2 separate regions of the Homo sapiens genome follow, and region 1 is linked to region 2. A link means that fine-mapping ties the variant in region 2 to the plasma level of a protein whose gene starts in the linked region. Region 2 holds a variant in brackets. A gene starts in the other region. All regions are shown on their reverse strands. Region 1 holds the start of CD300A (CD300a molecule). Region 2 overlaps POC1B-DUSP6 (POC1B-DUSP6 readthrough).

The links. PIP is the chance, under the fine-mapping model, that this variant and not a neighbour inherited with it causes the effect. Protein levels are from antibody-based Olink assays in UK Biobank. Linkage for the fine-mapping came from a reference panel and not from the study's own genotypes, which makes the PIPs less certain.
Region 1: it holds the start of CD300A, and the variant in region 2 is fine-mapped to the plasma level of the CD300A protein (UK Biobank, PIP above 0.99).

The regions. Positions count from the first base shown.
Region 1 is chr17:74,463,439-74,469,745 of GRCh38, reverse strand. CD300A (CD300a molecule) reads right to left here and starts at 3,112. Exons shown (of 7, transcript NM_007261.4): 1 at 3,003-3,112. The coding sequence starts at 3,042. It overlaps LOC124904056 (a long non-coding RNA gene), which reads left to right and starts at 1,972. Exons shown (of 2, transcript XR_007065899.1): 1 at 1,972-2,196; 2 at 4,996-5,738. RefSeq lists an enhancer at 1,971-2,100 and silencers at 2,461-2,520, 2,561-2,620.
Region 2 is chr12:89,499,682-89,518,314 of GRCh38, reverse strand. All of the region lies in intron 2 of POC1B-DUSP6 (POC1B-DUSP6 readthrough), which reads left to right. All of the region lies in intron 2 of POC1B (POC1 centriolar protein B), which reads left to right. It also overlaps the pseudogene CENPCP1. Among named protein-coding and RNA genes, the nearest start is that of GALNT4, 16 kb to the left of the region's middle. RefSeq lists an enhancer at 14,299-14,972. The variant T/G (reference allele first, on the strand shown) is at 8,438.

The DNA of each region.
Region 1 (6,307 bases), not on the chromosome of region 2:
TCAAGTGACTCTCATGTCTCAGCCTCCCGAGTGGCTGGGACTACAGGGTGCACACTACCATGCCTGGCTAATTTTGTGTTTTTAGGAGACACGGGGTTTCACCATGTTGGCCAGGCTGGTCTCAAACTCCTGACCTCAAGTGATCCACCCGCCTTGGCCTCCCAAAGTGCTGGGATTACAGGCGTGAGCCAACGTGCCTGGCCTCAAACAATTAATTAGACTAGTAGGTAGTCAGACCAAAAATAAAGAAGACGCAGATATAAAATTCAAAAGAAAAATTTGCAAATCTCTGCAAATAAGTCTGCAAACCTGGGCGACACTGATGATTTTTTAGGAAAATATAAATCATCAATGTAGGCCAAGAATAGACTTTTTTTTTTTTTAAGAGACGGGGTCTTGCTTGCTATACTGCCCAGGCCAGTCTCGGACTCCTGGGCTTAAGCTATCCTCCCACCTCAACCTCCTAAAATTCTGGGATTACAGGTGTGAGCCACTGCACCCAGCTAGATTTTTTTTAATGTAGACCAAAAATGATGAGTGTTATTAAGAAATTCTTTCCCTTCCATCAAAAAAAAAGAAGCAAAACTCAGACAGTTTTACAAGCTAGTTCTCTAAAAACTTCAAGGAACAAATAATTTCAATTTTATGTAAACATTTGCAGAGAACACGGAAACAGGGAGATCTCCCTAATTCTTTCCATGAAGCCAGCATAATAAATCAAGACAAACATCTGACCAGATCTCCTAATGTAGTTCACCTCCTTCATAGCTGAAAGGATAATAATAATAATAATTTCTATAAATAATAAAAATGGTATTTTGTGGGGGCCGGAGGCCAAGGCTGGCAGATTGCCTGAGCTCAGGAGTTCGAGACCACCTTGGGCAACATGGTGAAACCCCGTCTCTACTAAAATACAAAAAAATTAGCCAGCAGTGGTGGTGGGTGCCTGTAAGCCCAGTTATTCAAGAGGCTGAGGCAGGAGAATCACTTGAACCCGGGAGGCGGAGGTTGCAGTGAGCTGAGATCAAGCCACTGCACTCCAGCCCTGGGTGATAGAGTGAGATTCTGTCTCCAAAAAAATAAATAAAAATAAAATAAAAAATGTTTTGTAGGGGCCAGGTGTGGTGGTTCATGCCTGTAATCCCTGCATTTTGGGAGGACAAGATGGGAGGATCCCTTGATCCCAGGAGGTGGAGGCCAGCCTGGGCAACATGGTAAGACCCTGTCCCTAAAAAAAATTAAGAATCCAGCTGGGTGTGGTGGCACACACCTGTAGTCTCAGCTACTGGGGAGGTTGAGGTGGGAGGATCACTTGAGCCCGGGAGGTGGAGGCTACAGTGAACCGTGATTGCACCACCGCACTCCAGTTTGGGTGACGGAGGGAGACCCTGTCTCAAAAAAATAAAAATGTTGGCCAGGCTTGGTGGCTCACGCCTGCAATCCCAGCACTTTGGGAGGCCAAGGTGAGTGGATCACCTGAGGTTGGGAGTTTGAGACCAGCCTGACCAACATGGAGAAAGCCCATCTCTACTAAAAATACAAAATTAACCAGGCATGGTGGTACATGCCTGTAATCTCAGCTACTCGGGAGGCTGAGGCAGGAGAATCACTTGAACCTGGGAGGCGTAGGTTGCAGTGAGCCAAGATCGCGCCACTGCACTCCAGCCTGGGCAACAAGAGCAAAACTCCATCTCAAAAAATAAATAAATAAATAAATAAATAAATAAATAAATAAAAGTAAAAATGCTTTGTGAATAGTCATTGGTGGATCCCTTCTTCCTAATAATGAGAAGCTCTGGTCCTTTTTCCCTGAGTCAGCAACAAGGCAGGGACAACCACTACCACTATGTCCGCTGGGCCTCACTCCGGCTGTACCAGCCAATGAGTCAATGGGAGAAAGAGAAACAGATATTAGACAGGAACTGAAACCTTCCCATGCACACCGACCCTATGAAACAGAAGAACACCCAAGAGAATCGCAGGAGCACCTGTTATGGGAGGATGACCCGTTTCCAAGTCAAGACACCAAAAGTAATAACCTTCCCACAGACAAGTAGTTAGCAAATATAATTGCAGAAAACCTCCGATCTGTAAGGAAAGCAACCACAAAGACGTACAATACCCTAGGACTAGGCCTGAGGAGTCTGCACAGGAGCTGTCTGAGGAGAGCGGTGGACGTGACTGAAGGCACAGCAGGTGACTCTGCGGGAGGAATCCCTGCGCTTGGACAGGGAAGACTCAACTCCACGCTTCTCCCTAAAGAAGATCTCAGCGCTTCTCTGCCCGATCTTTTCCCTCCTCGCCCTCCCCACCACCTTTTCTGTCCCCTCTGTCCCATATCCCCTTCTTGGAGAGGACTGACCCCTGGTTCTCAGGCCCATGCAGGGGCTAACCCCAGCCAAGGCTGCCTCGGGACTTCCCCCTGCTCAGGCCCCAGCCGCTGGGCTGCCCTGGTTAAATCTCCGCATTCCAGAGACTATCGATCTGCTCCCCACCCCGACCCTATCTCCCTCACCGCCCCACCCCCTCCTCCGTACCCTGCACCTAGTGAGGCCGGCATCTCCCCCACCCTCCCCACACCCCCCTCCTCCATACCCTGCACCCAGTGAGCCCGGCATCTCCCCCACCCTCACCACATGCCCCTCGCAGTCAGTGGCTGCCACTCTCCACCCACCCTGACACATCCTGCCTCTCGTCCCCCTTCCTGTAAGAATTCAACTGAAAACCTAAAAGGTCCCTTTTCTGCACCCACCCCTTATCACTTGCCCCGCTGTGGTTCAGCCAAGGTACGTGGGTGCAGAGCCGGGAGAGGCCCTGGCTCCTTCCTCTCCCAGGGGTGTGGACCTTCATCTGTCCATCTTATGTGGTAGACAGAGCGCACCGCATTCTGCGTTCTGCACGGAGTCCAGACTCGGGGCGTCTCGTGTGATACCTGCCCTGCGGCCCTGCCCCTCGCACCCTCCCTCCCTGCCGCAGACTTTCCCGGGAAGGGAAACTCTCACCTGGGACCCAGAGAAGCAACAGAGCCCAAGGCAGCCACATGGTCCCTTCCCCAGCACAGGCGGCACTTGCAGCAGCTCCAGGCCCTACCTGGACCCGAGGGGAAAGTCACGCCTCCAAGGCCCCGACTTCTGCTTTTCTTGGTGCCGCGCTGCTTCCTTGTTCAGCTTCTTTTGGTTCTATTCCTGGAGCCGGTCAGAAAATGCAGGAAGCTGGTGAGCCCCGACTAAGACTCCCTAGAAACGGCACGTCCTCCTTAACGCTGGTTGAGGCTGCAGGTTCTTCGGCTATTTCTAGTGATGAGACCTCTCCCTGTAGTGACTCCGTAGCTTGCAGGACTGATCCCCGACTCTCACTTCCCCGGGTCTCCTCCTAGTGGAAGGCCCAATAACTCCTCCCTCCTTTCCTTGTGGTCAAGGTGGGCAACCCTGGGGGTGGGACCCGCTGAGCTGGCTCCTCTCACCCTCGGTGGTGCCCACGAGGAGGCTGCCAGGGGGAACTCCCCTTTCCTGAGTCCCTTCCCTGAGTCCCTTGGAGGTCCAGGCCTGGGCTTCGGGGCTGAGGGAAGGGGAGTTGTCATCGTGACTCCAGAGTCCCTGAATGGTTCCTAGTCTTGGAAATGTGTCCTCAACTTGACACAGAGGTCCTCCGGCCATGCCTTCCTTTCTATATAGCCCCATTGGAGCCAACTCGGGGCTGGGCACAGAGCAGGGACTCAGCGAGCCTGCAAGGACCCCTTTCCTGATCCACACAGAGTGCAGACTCTAAACACACACACGCTCACACTCACATACACACTCACACCCACACACACTCACCCACACACATTCACAAACACACACTCACATACACACACTCACACTCACCCACACACATTCACAAACACACACTCACATACACACTCACACAAACACACTCACCCACACACATTCACAAACACACTCACATACACACTCACACAAACACTCACCCACACACATTCACAAACACACACAAACACACTCAGCCACACACATTCACAAACACACAAACACACCCACACATTCACAAACACACTCGCATACACACAAACACACATTCACACACCCACACACATTCACAAACACACACTCACATACACACTCACATGCACACATATTCACACACACCCACACATTCACACTCACACATACACACAAACACATTCACAAACAAACACGTTCATGCACATACACTCACATATACACACTCACACACACATTCACAAACACTTTCACAAACACATACACACACGTACACACAAACACATACACACATTCACAAACACGTTCATGCACATACACACACACACACAAACATTCACACACCCACACACAAACACACACAAACACACTCACACTCTCACATACACACACACTCACCCAAACACACTCACATACACACACATTCACACACACCCACACACATACACTCACACAAACACATTCACACACCCACACACATTCACAAACACACACATACGCACACATTCACAAACACACGTTCATGCACACACACATATACACACACACAAACACACAGGCACTCTCACCCACACACATTCACAAACTCACATTCACACACAAACACAAATTCACACACACTGATACAAACACACATACACATTCACACATTGAAACACTCAAATTCACACAACGCACTTACATATACAACTGAAATACACTCACACATTCACACACAAACTCACACACTGACACATTCACACACAGTGACATACACTCACACACACACAGTCTCACACACGTGCCTTGAGTAGGTGCCCCAGCTTGCACAGAATGACCAGGTGGGCACAGGAAATGCCACTCCTAATGTGTAATGCGTCACCTGGGAGCTTGCAGTCCCCAAGCTCAGAGTGTCCACCCACATGGAGCCCTGTGCCAGCTATGGGATCCCAAGAATATCCTTCCCTCTGGCCCTTTTTGGAATTTGTCACTTTCCTCTTCCTTCTGAACACAGGGGCGCCTTGCCCACGAAGGTGTCAGGAAGCCAAGGAGACCTATGGGCTCTGCTGCTGGAAGATTCAATGACAAAGCCTGGTGGACATTGTGGAAATTTTCATGATGATGCAGTCATAGATTAACTAAACCTCATTAAGATCCAAGACACTTCGGGCCGGGCGCGGTGGCTCACTCCTGTAATCCCAGCACTTTGGGAGGCCGAGGCAGGCGGATCACGAGGTCAGGAGTTCGAGACCAGCCGGGCCAACGTGGCAAAACCCTGTCTCTACTAAAAATAAAAAAAATGTGGCGGGCACCTGCAATCCCAGCTACTCGGGAGGCTGAGGCAGGAGAATCGCTTGAACTCGAGAGGCAAAGGTTGCGGTGAGCCAAGATCGTGCCATTGCACCCCAGCCTGGGTGACAAGAGCAAGACTCCGTCTCAAAAAAAAAAAGATCCAAGACACTTTGGATCATGACACTGTTGAGCTGAACATAAAAATGCAGGAGATGTGTCATATTCGGTGGCTTATGTGGCCTGATCATTGCAAAGTTTCTCAAAAATTATTTTTTGATTCAACCATGACCAAAAAGGCGCTGCTGCAATCTTGAACGTCCAGGCCAGACAGAGAAGCAGAAGGCTAAGTTCTGGCGTGGCTTGTCCACTTACCACCGAATGAACTTGAGCAAAGCCTGTGGCTTCTGTAAAACGTCAATAATGACAGCTCCTCTGTGGGAATAAATATTATTATGATTATACAAATACTGAAATGTCAGTGTTCCTTAACATCCTCAGGTCAGTTTTTTCTGAGGGAATATATCTCTACTTTTGATGAAAGGTAATAGGAAAATTGGATTCCACAGGAAGTGCGCTTTACACTTTAATCTATGGGATGCAATTCTCCTTAGGCACATAGAGAAACACCTGACTTACTGCAAAGGAGAAGGGATCAGGGGACTTAGACCCTGCCACGCCCATCCTGCTCACCCCATCCTGTCCACAAACCCAAAGGAAGAAACAAAATGGTGCAAAATAACCACAAAACATGAGAGTTTTTTGCCGGAAGTTGCACATTCCGGCTGTGTCCCGATAACCATCAGGTGACATGACTCAGGGGGAGGAGGAGATGAGGCCACAGGGCTGAGGCCCATTTCCCAGGGGTGAGGGTGAGAAGTGGTCCCACAGCAGCCACAAAACTTCTGATCAGCTCTGGAGTCTCTTCCTGGTGTGGACACACGTGCTCAGAGGCCAATGAGGGGTGCTTTCTGGGAAGACCTGCAGCAGCAGCATTGAGTCCTGTGAACCACCCAGTCCTCAGAAAAGATGTGGGG
Region 2 (18,633 bases):
AATCAGTCTGCTTAGTATTAGGTGGGGCTTGGAAATCAGTTTATATTGGAGTTTTTCCTAAAATTTCAGAGAAACTTCAATCAATCCTTTTGGACAGGAGGTGGAGATTACTGTAAAAGGTGAAATGAGCTCCTGAGTTGTATAGTTGTCCACAGCAGAAATGAAAATTAGAGGGCACATGTCCTCAGGACCTCCTGATGCTGTGTCATGTTTAAAAAAAAAAAAAAAGGAAAATTAGAGCAGTCCTTCTAACTTAATAATTATTGGGGTACTACTTTTTCATTCGTGCCAAGCTTTATCAATCTTCCAGGCTGGGCTGGGAGTGATATCTACTGCAGGCCAGCAGTGTCTTCGGGTGTCTGGTCACCATTCTAACCTGTCTATTTGCATTTATCTAATCCTGTTCAAAAGGGGAAGAGGAGGCACTCTATTTATTTACTACTCCCTTATTTAGTTAAGGCTACTGTGTGCCAGATGCCATTTTATGCTCTGGGTATACATACAGAGGGGAAGAAAGCAGATGTGCTTCATAAGATGGTATGAAGAGTTCATGGTCCAGTGGTGGAGACAAATAATTAACAAGTAAACACGAATCCATTTGTTGGAACAACATGATGAAACAAAGGAAAATAGTCAAAGCTGTGAAGGAAAGGAATAGAATGCTTTTTTCTTTTTTTTTTTTGAGACCAAGTCTCACTCTGTTGCCCAGGCTGGAGTGCAGTGGTGTGATCTTGGCTCACTGCAACCTCCATCTCCCAAGTTCAAGCGATTCTCATGCCTCAGCCTCCCAAGTAGCTGGGACTATAGGTGCATGCCATAATGCCTGGCTAATTTTTGTATTTTTAGTAGAGATGGGGTTTCACCATGTTGGCCAGGGTGGTCTGGAACTCCTGACCTCAAGTGATCCACCCACCTCAGTCTCCCAAAGTGCTGGGATTACAGTTGTGAGCCACTGCACCCAGCCATAGAGTGCTTTTTAAAGGGAGGATAACAGTGGAGACATCCTTATATTTATGGGGTCAAGGAATACTTCCCTGTGAAAGTTAGATTTAACTGAAGACCAGAAGGAGAAGTTAGCTAGGTAAGGACTAAAAGGAGAGTAGCATAGGCAAAGATCATGGGTGAGAAAGAGCTGTCCTAGATCAAGAAAGTATAAGAATGCCAGAATGGGTAGAACCTGGTAAACAGAGATGAAGCTGTAGGGGGAGGTAGAGATAGCTTAGGCAGGGCCTTGAAGCTATAGTGGGTTTAAATGGTGGCCCTCCAAAACATGTGTCCATGTCGTAGTCCTTGGAACCTGTGATGTGACCTTATTTGGGAGGAAAAAGTCTTTGTAGATGTAAGTCTACAAAGGATCTTAATGATTATGAGATCATCCTGAATTATCTGGGTGGGCCCTAAATCCAGCGATGTGTCCTTGTAAAAAACATACAGAGGACATAAGAGGAGGCCACGTGAAGCCAGAGGCAGAGATTGGAGTGACACAGCCACAAGCCAGTGAGTGCCTAGAGACATCAGGACCTGGGAGAGGTGGGGAATGAGATATCCCCTAGAGCCTTTGGAGAGAGTGTGGCCCGGCCAACACCATGATTTCAGGCTTCTGGTTTCTGGAACTGTGAGATAATAAATTTCTGTTGTTTTATGCCTCCAGGTTTATGGTAATTTGTTACAGCAGCTACAGGAAACTTGACATGTTTTAGGATTTTGTTCTGAGAGTGGTGGAAATTGTTGGAGGGATTAGTAAGGGAATAACATGATTTGATTTGTACCTCAAAAAGACCACTCTGGCTACTATATGGAGATTGTACTATTAGTAGGGAAATCACTTAGGGGGATTATAGTAATACCAGCAGATGATGTTGGTTCAAACTAGGATAATGGTCTTCAAATTAGTGTGATGGTCTGGGCAAGATGGAAATTTGGGAATTATTAGCATATAAATGGTATTTAGTGTCATGGGAATGAATGAGATCACCTGGGAAGAATGTAGAGCAATGAGAACAAATACCCCATGTCTGAATATTGAAGATATCCAACCTGTAGATCAGAAGAGGAGATAGCAAAATAACCTAAGAAAGAATAATCAGAAAGATAGGAGGGAAAGCCGTTATAGTAGGGTATCATGAAAGCCAAGGGTTAGGAGTGGGGTAGAAATGTTGAAGATAGAGACAATATTAAATAGTCATTAGAGAGAGTGGAGGAAGAAACTAATAGAGAATCATGCACCACTTTGGAGTATATAAGACCCATGTGAACTTAGTTATCAAATTTATAGTGTTTCCAATCTGTTTGGGGGTTGGGTTGACCAGCAATTCTCACTGGTATAGTTATAATCTCAGAAAAGGCAGAGTGATTGGGATTTTTGCCAGGGGAATTTGAAGGAAGGAGGGAGAGTCAAGGGATTGAACGTTATGTGTATGAAGGGGATTATAATTGAATAAGGAGAGAAATGAAGGTTATAAATTGGTTAGTGAAGTGAAGATGGTGAGAAGAGAGCCTCAATGGAGAACATGGGTCTGGATGAGAACATGGGTCTTGGAGTTCTGGATGGGATGGAAGTGAGTGAGTCATAAGGAAAGCAAGTTGTCCTGTGGGTTGCAATCAGAGATTTGAGAAGTGCTCATGTTCTGCTGGTGACAAGATCCTCAGAATGGGTTGCTGAGGAGGCAGGAGAAAAAAGGTCTTTGGAGAGGCCCTATTTTCCCCTTGGTCTGAAATGTTCTTCACCACCTCACTCTTTATTTGGCTGACTCCCTGTCCTTCACACCTCCACTTAAAATGCCCCTGATCACTCTATCTAAATTAAGATTCCACCCCCACACAAAATAAAACTTCCTGCTTTATCTTTCATGCCTCTTAGCACAATTTAAAATGATATAAAGCCAAGCACAGTGGTGCATGCCTGTAGTCCCACCTACTCAAGGGGCTGAGGCAGGAGGGATACCTTGAGCCCAGGAGTTTGAGACCAGCCTGGGGAACATAGTGGGACCCCTATCTTCAAAAAATTAATAAAAATAAATAAATAAATACAATGATATATTTGTCTGTGTTTCCACTTGAATTTAAGCTCCCCAATTAGAGATTTCTGTCTGCTTTGTTACTTAGGACTCCCCCTTTTTGCCACAATGCCTTACATGTTGCTGGGGTCACATATCTGTTGAGTTAATTCATAATGCTCAGAGTTGAAATGGAGAGGAAGACTGTGACCTGAAGTAGCTGACATGTGAAAGAGAAAATGATTGCTGCTTGAAAGGTGTCAGGAAACTTGGTGTCCCCAAGCAGAGTCAAGATTTAAGTACTTAAGGAGGAAGAGGGACTTACAGAGAGGAGGATGTGAATACAAGAGGCATCATCTAGTGGGTGATGTGGCTCAGTGGTAAATTTTGAGGAGAGAAGGCGTGGGTACCAGGTCAGCTTAAGGGGATATCCATAGCATTATGGGAGTGAGAGATTGCACAATGCTTAATGACCAGAGAGGCTTGAGGCTTCAACTTCTGGTCATGATTAGAGGAAGCAGGACCTGAAGCATGTGGATTTTTTTCTTAGTAGACTCTTAGAAGGTAGGATATATTAGTCTGTTCTCCTACTGCAATAAAGAAATACCTGAGGCCGGGCGCAGTGGCTTATGCCTGCAATCCCAGCACTTTGGGAGGCTGAGGCAGGCAGATCACTTGAAGTCAGGAGTTTGAGACTAGCCTGGCCAACATGGTGAAACCCCGTCTCTACTAAAAATAAAAAATTAGCCAGGTGTGGTGGCAGGCGCCTGTAGTCCCAGCTACTTGGGAGACTGAGGGAGGAGAATTGCTTGAACCCGGGAGGCAAAGGCTGCAATGAGCCGAGATCATGCCGCTGTACTCCAGCCTGGACGACAGAGTAAGACTTCGTCTAAAAAAAAAAAAAAAAAAAAAAAAAGAAATACATGAAACTGAGTAACTTATAAAGAAAAGAGTTTTGATTGGCTCACAGTTCCACAGGCTATACAGGAAACATGGCTGGGGAGGCCTCAGGAAACTTAACAATCATGGCAGTAGGTGAAGGAGAAGCAGGCACATCTTACATGGCCAGAGCTGGAGGAAGAGAAGGGGAGGTGCTATATACTTTTAAACAACCAGATCTTGTGAGAACTCACTCACTATCACGAGAACGGCAAGGGGGAATTCTGCCCCTATGATCCAATCATGTCCCTCCAGGCCCCTCCTCCAACACTGGGGATTACAATTCAACATGAGATTTGGGTGGGGTCATAAGTCCAAACCATATTATAGGGGCTCTTAGGTTTCACAGGATGGGTGGAAAGGTGATGAGAGGGAAGAGGATGGGAGAAAACAAAATAGCCTGTGAAGTGTTGTCATCCCTTTTTATGGTTGCGGAAGCTGAAATTTCAGTAACTTGCCCAAAACTATAAAGCTAGTAGGCAGCAGAGCCTAGTAGTGGTCCCCAATCTTTTTGGCACCAGGGACTGGCTTCATGGAAGACAATTTTCACAGCAGGGTTCACACTCCTATGAGAATCTAATGCCGCTGCTGATCTCACTGGAGCTGGAGCTCAAGCCTTAAGGTTTGCTTGCCTGCCGCTCACCTCCTGCTGTGCAGCCCAGTTCCTAATAGGCCATGGACCAGAACCAGTTCGCAGCCTGGGGGTTGGGGACCTCTAGCCTAATAGAGCCTGGTTTGAGTCTGATTTCAGAACCATACCCTTTTCCATTAGGCCAGTCATCCCTTTCGCAGAGGGCCACATTAAAGTTTAAACAAACAGTAAAAGCCTGTTAAAGTATTTTCACAGGGTTTGCAGAATCTGAGCTGTACTTTAGAAGTTTCTGTTGAAAATTACATAATTTTAACATTGAAGTTGTTACTTCCCCCTCTATTTCCTTCAAGGTTATCCTGTCATTGATTCAATCCTGTAACATGTGGTGTGCTTGTACAACAAATGATGGTAAAGAACAAGTTAATCTTTCCTTTTTTGACTGAATAGAAGCAGACTGAAATTTGAACTTTTTAGTTACTTTCCCTGCAGTGAAATCATAATAAAAGTTTGCCAAGAATTCTTTTTTTTTTTTTTTTTCAAATTCTTGATGGCAGCCTATGTGGTACTTTGTGGAGCTTCTCCTATTATAGCTTAAAAAATTACTAAATTTATAAAAGCTGAAAAATTACAAAAGCTAAACTAATTTAGTGTATACACTGAGAGGTAGTAACAGAGTGCAGTGTTTCTCAAATTTCAATGTGCATCAGAATTCAGTGAGAAACTTGTCAAAAATTTATATTCCCAGGTCTCACCCCAAATAATGTATAATTTACTAGAAATAACGTCTTTTTTACAAGGATCCCAGTAACTGTAATGAAGATAATTCATAAATTCCCTTTGCTTTGAGAAGCACTGGTTTATTGGTTAAAAGCCTAGGCTTTGGAATCTTATAAAACTGGGTTAAAAATTGAGCTCTTTTCACTTTTCATCTATATTACCTTGACCAGTTACCTAACCTCACTAAGCCTCGTTTCCTCTTCTGTAAAATAGAGATAATGATATTTATCTGCCTTGTTGTTAGGATTAAATAAAGTAATACTTATAAAGGCGCCTAGTCTGGAGTACAGTGATGCAGTTACAGCACACTGCAGCCTTGACCTCCTGGTCAAGCTCCAGCCGCCCGCCTCCCTCAGCCTCTGGAGTAGCTGGGACTACAGGCATGCACCACGAAACCCAGGTAATTTTTTAAATTGTTTGTAGAGAGCCTCGCTATATTGCTGAGGCTGGTCTTGAACTCCTAGCCTATCGTAGTCCTTCTGCCTTGGCCTCTCGAAGCACTGGGATTACAGGCATGAGCCACCGTGCCTGGGCTTGATACTTACGCAGTATTGAAAAATACTAGGCCCATGGTACCAATTCAGTAAAGGTTTCTGTTGTTGTTATTGCCAGTCCTCAAAGACATGTGAAATTTGAATAAATTAAATTCAATTTCTTCAGCTTGTCATTACTAAAGATTACTTTTTAAAGCACCCACAGCTCCTTTAGACCCAGCTTATACTAGCAAGCTAATTACTTAGTATCAGCTAGAAAGCAAATATGCTTAGTTATTTCCTCATTCAAGGCAAAGGGATTTTAAGTTAGTGCTGTCAGTTAATTGTATTATTATGCAGTGCTTGCATAGTACAAACTACTTCTGACCATATTACAGTATTAAAGTTTGTCTAGTCAAGATTGGAATATTGTCTTTTTATTGTACAACCCTCTCCCTCACTTCCATCTAGGTTTATTGTTGTTTTGAGACAGTCTTACTCTGTCACCCACGCTGGAAGGCAGTGTTGCGATCTCAGCTCACTACAGCCCCAATCTCCTGGATTCTAGTGATTCTCGTGCCTCAGCCTCCCAAGTAGCTAGTACTATAGGTGCACGCCACCACGCCTGGCTCATTTTTGTATTTTTAGTAGAGACAGGGTTTCACCATATTGGCCAAACTGGTCTCAAATTCCTGGACTCGAGTGATTCACCTGCCTTGGCCTCCCAAAGTGCTGAGATTACAGTGAGCCATTATGCCAGGCCCCATCTACGTTTATGGATGTATGTCTGGGGATTGCCTTTTATTTTTCTTTTCTTAAAAATATTTAGAAAGAACTCATTCTCATAGATTTCTTTAGATTTCCCTATTTTTCCCCCAAATAAAGCAGTCTGGTGTTTCTTTTGTGACCCAAAGGCAAGCATGAACCTGGAAATGCAGCATGAAGTACAAAGTCATGGCACCAGGTAAAACTAGAAAGCTGAGTTTATTTTCAGTAATGGACTTTATAGTAGGACATAATGGAGGTAGAAAATACAGAGAAGGACTTCTGAAATAAGTGAAAAATCCAAGGATTTCTATATGAAGGTAATCTGAATTATCAGGAATTTTTTTTTTTTTTTTTGAGACAGAGTCTCACTTTGTTGCCCAGGCTGGAGTGCAGTGGCACCATCTCAGCTCATTGCAACTTCTGCCTCCCGGAGTCAAGCGATTCCCCTGCCTCAGCCTCCCAAGTAGCTGGTGTGCAACACAGTGCCTGGCTAACTTTTTTGCATTTTTAGTAGAGATGGGATTTCACCATGTTGTCCAGGCTGGTCTCGAACTCCTGACCTCAGGTGATCTACCCGCCTCAGCCTCCCAAAGTGTTGGGCTTACAGGCGTGAGCCACTGCACCTGGCCAGTCAGGATTATTTTGAATATGGAATGAAAAGGCCTGAGAGGGAATGTATTTCAAATGTACAAAGTTATCTAAAATATGTACTGTTTGGCCAGGCATGGTGGCTCACGCCTGTATCCCAGCACTTTGGGGGGCCGAAGTAGGCAGATCACCTGAGGCCAGGAGTGTGAGACCAGCCTGGCCAACATGGTGAAACCCTGTCTGTACTAAATACAAAAAAAATTAGCCAGTGTGGTGGGCACCTGTAGTCCCAGCTGCTTGGGAGGCTGAGGCAGGAGAATTGCTTGAACCCAGGAGGCAGAGGCCGCAGTGAGCTGAGATTGTGCCACTGTATTCTAGCCTGGGCGACAGAATGAGACTCCATATCAAAAAAAAAAAAGAATAAAAACATATTTCTTCCTCCAGTGACGAAACTAATTTGTTGCTGAAAATATCAATAGCAAAAACTGCAATTTTGCACAACCTAATAATTGTAAAACTGGACAAAATATATGTGAGTTAGCTGTTTTCAGGCACTGACCTACAGAGAGTGTGAAAACTATGATCTTTGCAAGAAAGAAAACATGCAAGGTGATGATCTCCTTGGCTTTCTTCCTGGGAGCACTTTTCCTGCTGCACAGCAGAGAGGTAGAGCAGCCTCAGAGTAACAGCCTGGCTGAGCTCAGGATGTGCAGAGTGGGAAACTGTGAGACTACCAGGGATCTCTCACTGCTAGACTGAGAGCTGAATGATACTAATGACCATGCAGGGCTGGATGTCTAGGTCTCTAGCTCCAACAAAGAGGAAATCTCTCTGAGCACTTCAGACATTGAGTTGAGACACCAGAAAGGCCAGGTCTTTAGGAATCAGGACCACACCTGAAAGAAAGGGCCATGCCCTAGGACTAATTTCCAAGCTCAAGCAGACCCATGCTACCAAAGAACAAAAGGAAGTGTACAAGAACAAAAAGGAGCCACCTATAATTTAATTGCCTCCCAGTTAAAAAAACGAAACAGGCTGGGCGTGGTGACTCACACTTGCAAACCCAGCATTTTGGGGGGCCAAGGCAGGTAGATCACTTGAGGCCAGGAGTTCGAGACCAGCCTGGACAATATGCTGAAACCCTGTCTCTACTAAAAATACAAAAAAAATTAACTGAGTGTGGTGGCGCATGCTTGTAATCCCAGCTACTTGGGAGGCTGAGGCACAAGAATCACTTGAACCCGGGAGGCAGAGGTTGCAGTGAGCCAAAATCGCCCCACGGCACTCCAGCCTGGGCAACAGAG[T/G]GAGACTCTGTCGCAAAAAAACCAAAATTGAATCCTGAACTCTAGTTAGTGGGATTGTTTTTGCAGTGGTGTGGTTCCATGATTCTGAAACTACTGTTTGTATTTTAGGATTGAGCAAAGATATATTGAGCATGGGAGCCAGGTTTCTTATTGTGGGAAAAGAGAGTCACAGATATGGAAAAAAGGAGGGCAAGAATGTATTCTGTGGTGTTAGATTAGAACTCATGGTTTTTAATACCTATATCAATTGATATACCTACATATAGATAGATAATAGCTTTCTATTTATAGCTAATTTCTTAGTTCTGCCCGTTGAGATTTCTGTCTTACTCCTTAGCTCTGTTCACTGACACACCAGTAGCAATAAGCAAACATTGTGCCCAGATATTGGTTTCTAAATACCATTATCCATTAAAAGAAATCAGAGCTTTTGGAGGGGAAAAAAAAAGGCCCATTTCAGGGCTGGAGTGGGAGAAGTACATCTTAGAACATCGTGTAATTCTAGAAAATAAGGGAGTATTTGAAGAATGGAAATATATCAAAAGGACACAGAGGCCAGCTTTTAAAGGGGCTTTCATTTGCCAAATCTGGAACAATTTGAGAGTCAAAATAAATGATAGTTATGGATTATAACCTGTTGAATTAAATAATCTATGCATTCACACTGATAAAAATAAGTAAATGAGTAAACAGATAAATGGAGGAAAATGGATGGTTCTTCCTTACAACAGTAAATACATTTTTAAAATATTCATTAACTTACTAATTAAACATCAATTAAGTAGTAAATCATAGAATGATGGGTTAGAAAATTATGAAAGGATGCTAAAATTAGTGTGTGACAGTTTGGTGAGGAAGACGATATTTATATAGTCTTGTCTCTCCATCTATTAGTCTGTTCACACACTTCTATAAAGAACCGCCTAAGACTGGGTAATTTATAAAGGAAAAAGGTTTAATTGACACATAGTTTCACATGGCTGGGTAGGCCTCAGGAAATTTAGGATCATAGCCTAAGGGGAAACAAACACATCCTTCTTCACATGGCAGCAGGAGAGACAAGTGCAGAGCAAAGGTGGGGAAGCTCCTTATAAAACCATCGGATCTTGTGAGAAATCACTCACTATCATGAGAACAGCCCCCATGATCTAATCACCTCCCACAAGGTCCCTCCCCCAACACATGGATTATAATTCGGATTACAATTCAAGATGAGATTTTCGGTGGGGACACAGCCAAACCATATTATGCTACAAGTTACTAATTAATTCCAAAGGGAAAAATAGTAACTTTACATGGTAGAGGTAGGATCACCTAAACCAAGCAATCAAAGTAAACATCAACACTATTAGGACAAAGAGACATCATGTGCACCCTAATATGATGCACTGCTAAGGGTACAACATAACTTTTGTGATATTCTTGTCAAAATTATATCTTCAATCTAATAAAATTAACAAACATGCTACCAAAATAACAAGCCTATAGTCTTCAAGAACATCAAGGTCAATAAAGACAAAGAGCAACCTAAGAACTCTTCTGTAATTTTTCTGTAAGCTTAAAATTATCAAAATAAAAATTTACCAAAAATAAGAGGGAAAAGGGAATGAGGCAGCTCTAGGTATTAACAAAACATTGTCTCCAACATATATCATGCTAAGTAGACTGAGGAAGCAAGATAGAGAGGCAAAATGCAGAATAGCAAGAATAATATACTACCATTTGTATAAAAAGCATATGAGAATAGACACACACATTTGTATAAGCACAAAGGATTCCCCAGAAATTAGTAATGCTGGTTGCTTCTGGGAAGGAGAACCAGGTTGCCAAGGACTAGAAGGAGATTTCATTAAATGCTGTTTTGTAATGTTGGAATTCTGTAATATTGGAATTCTGTTTCAGGTACACATATTACCAACTGAAAAGATACGTAAGATAATTTGTAAGAAACAAAAAACTGGAGACGGTAACATTTCTTTTCAGAAAATAGTGTTCCAGACAGAGCCTCTAAGTAACTGCAGCTGATTTTGGTCAAATCAATGAGTGAGAAAGCTTGAGTTGACTCAAGGAAGTTATTGGTACTTAAGGTGACACAAAGACGGGTGGCCATTTGGACATTGTGTGACAGACAAAGAGCAAACATGTTTTCCATTTGTTGTTCTTTGTTGTCACCTCCAGAGACAAAGCACTGACCTAGGTAAGCATGGGCTTTGTTCTTTCTTCTGCCAACAGGGATTTCTTGAAACAATGGATTATTGTTATAGAACATAAATAGTTTTTTTAAACTGGTAGATTACTAGTTAATGTTTTCCCTTAATTTCCTCCCTTTTGACATTTTATCTCGAAATAGACCCGTTGAAGATGAATGGTACAAGCTTTGACATTTTAAATTATGTGGTAATGTTTATATAGGGTGTGGTTTAATGGAAATGTATGAAAGCAAATTCCAAGTTGACACAGTACAACACTGACATCAATAACCAAATACATTTTATTATCATGGTATTAGGGTTTGGTAGGACAGTTCTTTCCTAAGAAAGAAGGTTAAGGAAGTAAAGAGGGAAATTCAATGTTGGTTTTCATAGTTTTTTTTTTTTTTTTTTTTTTTTTTGAGACAGGGCCTTGCTCTGTCTGGAGCAGGCTGGAGTGCAGTGGCGCAATCGTGGCTCAGTACAGCCTCTATCTCCCACCTCAGCCTCCCCCACCCCCACAGAGTAGCTGGGAATACAGGTGCAGGTCACCATGCCCAGCTAATTTTTTTGTTATTTTTTGTAGAGACGGGGTTTCGAGACGTTGCCCAGCTGGTCTCAGACTTCTGGGCTGAAGTGATCTGCTGCCTTGGGGGTCGTAATATGTTATATAATATGTATTAACTCCCTCCTATTTTCTTCTGACTCCATGCCTTTCTGGCTTTGATCCCACTTTCTTGAGGAAGAAAACACATGGACAAATTCTGATGTTAGGAATATTTTAAGTATATATCTTCAATATTATTTATCCAGGACCAAAGTAAGTCCTGATGCAGGAAATGAGTGAGTTTCACAGCTTTCTGAGCCCCTACTCGACCCAGGAAGCCCCGCTGGAACCTCCTCTCTCTTGGGCCCAGGGCCAGCTTTGTGGGCATACCTCCTGTACAGTTGCACAGGGCCCCATGCTTAGTTTAATGCTATGAAATTCTTAATTATTTTCCTATAAGAGCTTCACATTTACGTTTTGCACTAGGCCCTGCAAATTATGTAGCAGGTCCTGATCAGGCCTGATTTTACTAAACCTCATTTGACACACTTGTCACCCTCTTGGAATGCTCCTTCTCTTCCTGGACACCACAATGTCCTTGTTCCTCTCCTACTTCGTTTGTGGCTCCTTCCTTTGCTCTTCCTTATCTGAACGTTAAGTGTCCTCAACCTCTTCTTTATCTGTACTGATTTCCTCAGTGATCCCATCTAGTTTACAGTCTTTAGTACTTTCTCTAAGTTACTACTAACAGAGAAAACTTTAGCAATAATAGCTACATTTGAGTATTTTTCATGTGGCAGGCATAAATTGCAAGTACTATTTCCTTTAATACTTTTAACACCTCATTTTGCAAATGAAATGTCCTGGGCACAGAGAGGTGGAATAACTTGCCCAAGGGCACACAGCAGTAAGTGACAGCATGGATTTGAACACAGTGAGTCTAATTTCACAGGGTGTTCTTTTAACCACCACACTGTACAGTCAGAACCTCTCCCTGGGCTCCAGGCGGGGTATATCCATCTTCCTACTTGACATTTTCACTTGTATGTCTAATTGGCATCTCAAAACTACTATGTCCACCCCAACCTGTATCACTTCAGATCTCCTTTTCTGGTCTTTCTCATCTCATTAAATGGCACTAAAACTCACTTCAGTGCCCAGGCCAAAATTCTAGCATCTTCTCTTTTTCTCTCCCTCACATCTAGTCATTAGCAAGTCTCATAGACCCTACAGTATATCTTGATTTTGACTCTTTTTCCTCCTTCCAAGGCTCGCAGTCTAGTCCAGACCACTGCTTTCTCCTGACTGCGTGATTGCAGTAGCCTCCTAATAGATCTGTCCCTTGCCCCTTGTAGCTTCTCCACACAACAGCTAGAGTGATGTTTTCTGCTTTTTCCTAAATGTTTTATTGAAGCATTGATATGTTCCAAAAATTGCACAAATCATATAACTGTAAAGCTTGATGAATATTTAGAATGTGACCTGCTTATTTAACCAAAACCCAGAGTGAGAAGCATAACATTACCAGCATCTCCGGAAGTCCCCTCTTGTGTTCCCTTCCAGCCACTATACTCCCTCCCTGCCATCCACATAATCACTATGTTTGCTTCTAACTTCATAGGTTAATTTTGCTTCTTCTTAAACTTCATATAAGTAAAATTTAACACAGTGGGTATGCAACATGAATATATCACAATTTATGTATTCATTTTACTTGGATAGTTGGGCTTCTAGCTTTGATCTATTGTGAATAGTATTGCCACAAACATTGCACATGTCTTTTGCTAACCATACATAAGAATTTCTGTGGGTATATTCCTAGAAGTGGAATTGCTGAATCAAATACTAAGTATATATTCAGCTTCAATAGATATTTCAAAATAGATTTTCAAAGTGGTTATAACCACTAGTAGTATATGAACATTCCAGTTGTTCTACATCCTCACCAAGATTTGGTGTTATTTATCTTTTTCATTGTAATCATTCTGATGAGTGTGCACGGATATCTCATTGTGGTTTTAATTTACGTTTTCGTGATGACTAATGGAATTGAGCACATTTTCATATGTTTATTGACCATATGGGTATCTTCTTTTGCAAAGTGCCTGTTTAAGTCCTTTGCCTATTTTTGTTGTTGTTGTTGGGTAGTGTGCCTTTTTCTTATTGATTTGTAGCATTCTTTTTAAATTTTATTTTTTTTGTAGAGATGGAGTCTCATTATGTTGCCCAAGTTGGTCTCAAACTCCTGGCCTCAAGTGGTCCTCTCACCTTGGCGTCTCAAATTGCTGGGATTACAGGCATGAGCCACTGTACCTGGCTGATTCGTAGCATTCTTTATAGATTCTGTATATGCACACTTTGTTATGTGTTGGATATATGTGTTGTAAATATCTTCTTTGCCACTTGGTGGCTTGCTTTTCTACTTGGTTAGTGGTATCTCTCAGTGAACAAAACTTCTTAATTTTTGCACAGTACAAATTATCATTCTTTTCCTCTATACTTATTAACGTTAATGTCTTTTTTCTTTCTTTTTTTTTTTTATTGATCATTCTTGGGTGTTTCTTGCAGAGAGGGATTTGGCAGGGTCATAGGACAATAGTGGAGGGAAGGTCAGCAGATAAACAAGTGAACAAAGGTCTCTGGTTTTCCTAGGCAGAGGACCCTGCGGCCTTCCGCAGTGTTTGTGTCCCTGGGTACTTGAGGTTAGGGAGTGGTGATGACTCTTAAGGAGCATGCTGCCTTCAAGCATCTGTTTAACAAAGCACATCTTGCACCGCCCTTAATCCATTTAACCCTGAGTGGACACAGCACATGTTTCAGAGAGCACAGGGTTGGGGGCAAGGTCATAGATCAACAGCATCCCAAAGCAGAAGAATCTTTCTTAGTACAGAACAAAATGGAGTCTCCTATGTCTACTTCTTTCTCCACAGACACAGCAACAATCTGATTTCTCTATCTTTTCCCCACATTTCCCCCTTTTCTATTCCACAAAACCGCCATCGTCATCATGGCCCGTTCTCAATGAGCTGTTGGGTACACCTCCCAGATGGGGTGGTGGCCGGGCAGAGGGGCTCCTCACTTCCCAGAAGGGGCGGCCGGGCAGAGGCGCCCCCCACCTCCTGGATGGGGCGGCGGCCGGGCAGAGGCGCCCCCCACCTCCCTCCCGGACGGGGCGGCTGCCGGGCGGAGACGCTCCTCACTTCCCAGACAGGGTGGCTGCGGGGCGGAGGGGCTCCTCACTTCTCAGACAGGGCGGCTGCCAGGCGGAGGGGCTCCTCACTTCTCAGACGGGGCGGCTGCCGGGCGGAGGGGCTCCTCACTTCTCAGATGGGGCGGCTGCCGGGCGGAGGGGCTCCTCACTTCTCAGATGGGGCGGCTGCCGGGCGGAGGGGCTCCTCACTTCTCAGACGGGGCGGCCGGGCAGAGACGCTCCTCACCTCCCAGACGGGGTCGCAGCAGGGCAGAGGCTCTCCTCACATCCCAGATGGGGTGGCGGGGCAGAGGCGCTCCCCACATCTCAGACGATGGGCGGCCGGGCAGAGACGCTCCTCACTTCCTAGACGGGATGGTGGCCGGGCAGAGACGCTCCTCACTTCCCAGACGGGGTGGCAGCCAGGCAGAGGCTGCAGTCTTGGCACTTTGGGAGGCCAAGGCAGGCGGCTGGGAGGTGGAGGTTGTAGCTAGCTGAGATCATGCCACTGCACTCCAGCCTCGGCAACATTGAGCACTGAGTGAATGAGACTCCGTCTGCAATCCCGGCACCTCGGGAGGCCGAGGCTGGCAGATCACTCGCGGTTAGGAGCTGGAGACCAGCCCGGCCAACACAGCGAAACCCCGTCTCCACCAAAAAAATACAAAAACCAGTCAGGCGTGGCGGCGCGTGCCTGCAATCGCAGGCACTCGGCAGGCTGAGGCAGGAGAATCAGGCAGCAAGGTTGCAGTGAGCCGAGATGGCAGCAGTACAGTCCAGCTTCGGCTGGGCATCAGAGGGAGACTGTGGAAAGAGAGGGAGAGGGAGACCGTGGGGAGAGAGGGATAGGGATAGGGATAGGGATAGGGATAGATGTCTTTTTTTCACAAAAATGAATAATTTTTTTATTTTAAAACATCACAAGTAATTACAAAGACAAATGTCCCAACTATACAAACTTTTTCACATATACATATATACACACATATATTTAAGGTTGGTTGATCTTTCATCTTTTTATCTGAGTAAAAAGAAGAACACTTTCCTCATTCAGGAGATTTTTGATGTTATAATAGTTACCTGAAGGAACATAGAACGAATCCCCAGTACTTATTATATAAGGTATTTCGTGTAAAGTACACGAAAGGTCACCAAAGTTAACATAAAAAAACAATATATCCTGGCCAACATGCTGCTTTCCCTTTTCTTCTTGTGGTCTTAATATCAATTTCCCAGTAGAAAAAAAGGGTGTATCCAATGTGTTATATACCTTCAACTCACCATGCTTAACAAAAAATTGATATGTATCTTGTGGCCTTACAAGATCCATGAGAATAATCTCTCTTGTTTCTGGGTCCTTTACCATTGCTGGCTGCAAAGGATCTCCAAGAGGTATACCTAGATTTACCATTAAGCTAGTCTTTCTTTCATCGTTATCAAGACAGATCCTTTTCTTATTAGATTTTTTTGTCAACTTTTCCAATATTTTCTCTTGCCTTCCTTTTAGACGATATTTTGCCTGGAGATAGTATTCCACTAATCACGAATCCTCCTGATGGCCTTCCTTGATAATCTATTTGCTGTCCTCGCCAGTACTCCAAAGGTTTCAAACGTGTTCTCTTGGTCCTGCGAACATTTGGTGTGTTGGAGGGCAATACTAGTTTGTGATGGATTCTGTTCTTTGGTATCACTTTAGTTCGTTTTGAGTCATCTGAACTTCCAGGAACTTCCTCATCATCCACATCATTATTATTCTTTCCAGACATTAAATAATTATTATTGAGCCTGGAAGGTCCACTTTCCTCTAAAACTGAAGTCTTATGCTCTCCAGAATCCAAGTTTGACTCTGTTGGTGTATTACATGTATATCCACTGGTCTGAGGCTTTAGGGGAACATTCTGTGCAGTCATAATATTATCTTCATTCTTTGAGCTTCCTGTAGATCTAGAACAATCCAGATTTTTCCTCTTAGCCAAGTCTGCCTCATCACTTTCCAATGGCTCACTCAGGAAACAACTGGAAATTTCATCATGACCAATGATACCTCCAGAACCTTTAGCATTTAAAAACTTCTGTACTCTTTGGCTGTCTTTAGTTGCTGTCTTCTGCCTTTTAAGTGGAATAGTTTTTTTCCCAATATTCTTAGATGACTGATTTGTTTTCTTAGCAGATTTTTGCCTACTGTTGTGATGCAGTGGTAATTCATTTCTTATTGAAGAATTGCTATAAACAGGACTCTCCTCTGATTTTACCACCCACCAATTAGACGGATGCCTGGAAATTCTTCGACTTCTCGTGACAGTTGAAGTCACTTCTTCAGACACAAGTTTGTTCTTGGACTCACTAGAAAAGCGCTTCTTTTTAGATTCTTCCTTATCTTTTCTAGTGCTACTTTTCTTGCTTCCCACAGGTGGCATCTGTATTTTGGAAGCACAATCATTTCCCATCTCTTCACGCTCTTCCATATTTCTGTCTGAATTTCTTTGAAATTTGTCTTGGGTAATATGTGACATATGTATGTTTTCATCTTTAGTCTGTCCCACATCGAGCTGTTCTTCAGCTGGTTTAGCCATAAATTTTCTTCTCTGTTTTTGTTTTATAGTCCTTTTGCTTCCAGATGATTTTTCTGCATTCTTGGAATACATTTCATATTTTGTAGATCTACAGTCATTTTCTGTTTCACCTGTCAAAGCATAACTTGTATCCAGTACTGTTTTATCAGAGGGCTGAGATGTCTCTACTAGGTGAGGTTTATGGGAATGTTTGTCATTTGCCAAAGTCTTAGCTAATATATTATGATGCTTTTCTCTTGACTTTCTATCTTGAAGGAGTGCAGTGCTCTCAGCCGGGGATATGGTGCGTTGTTTCAGAGGCCCCGCCTTTCTTGGTATAGTAATCCCAAGATCTACTGGCAAAACTTTGATCTGACTTATCAATTATAAATTCATCCTCTATCAACTTCATATCATCGGGAGGACACGAATGAGGTGGAACAATTCCTCCATGCCTAACAATGGGACTGGATTCACTTTTTCGTTTTACTGTTTCTAAAAACAATGTTGAAAAACTTTTTTTAGCTTGTCATTGAATTTCATATTCTGAATGTCGTATTCTATTCTGAGATGATCCTGATGGTTTTCTTTCTTGTCCTTCTGATGTTTTATCCTCTTTATCTGATACTTTATTATCTATTTCTATCTATTTCTATTTTCTTTAAAATAACTTTATCTTCAAAGTTTAATCTTTTTTTGGTTTTAAGTGAAACCTCTGTACTTGAAGGCAGCATATTTACTGAATTTTCAAAAGTGTAAGTCTCTCTCTTTTGGGCACTAGATGGAATAACATTTTGCGATACAGATGTTTTTGCATCCAAAAGAACAGAAGGTGAGCCAACAGATAAGTAAAATTCTTCATCAGCTTCACTGTGATGATCATTTATGTTTCTACTTCACATTTTTTTCAAGTCAGGTGTATTTTTGGAACTAACATCAGTTGCCAGAATTTTCTGACGAACTTCATGGGCCTGAACTGATCTGTTGGTGGCTTCACTTGGTTCTACAACAAACTGCAGAGAGGCTTCTTTCTTCCTTGAAGAAAGTGGAACTGACTTTGGATGTGATTTCTGGCACTCTTTGCTTGGTGACTGAATACAAGTGTCTTTTATTTTGCGTGTTGAATTAAGCACTGATTTTGTAGAATTTGTGCTAAAATCATTGGCAAGACTTTTTTCTTCAAAACAGTCTTGTAAGATTTCCAGAACATTCTGGCCTTGCTCTGTGTTAATGTCACGTGCCCTGGAAGGTTGACAAAATCTTCTTCTGTAGCCATTTTTGAGATGATCCAGACCCGACACAGCCATGTTCCGGCCCCGCTGAGCCAGCGCAGGTGTCTGAGGTGGAAGCCCACACAGACCACAGCTCCAGGAGGCCGAGCAAGAAATGAATCGCCGGACTACCAGGCGGCGGCCAAGCAACACCCTTAAGTCGAAGGCGATGGCCGCCGCAAGAGCTGCGATCTGGAAGGCGTGCGCCAACAACACTTCCCGGCCATTGGCTCTGCCCTCAACAAACACGTTAATGTCTTTTTAAAGCAGTGTTTGCCTACCCCAAGGTCATGAAGATATTCTGTGTTCTCTTCTAAAAGCTTATTGTTTTACGTACCACATTTAGATCTGTTTTCTACGTGGAATTAACTTTTGTATGTGGTATAAAGTGTAGGATTCAAGATTAATTTTCTTCCTTATGAGTATCCAGTTGACCCACCACAATTG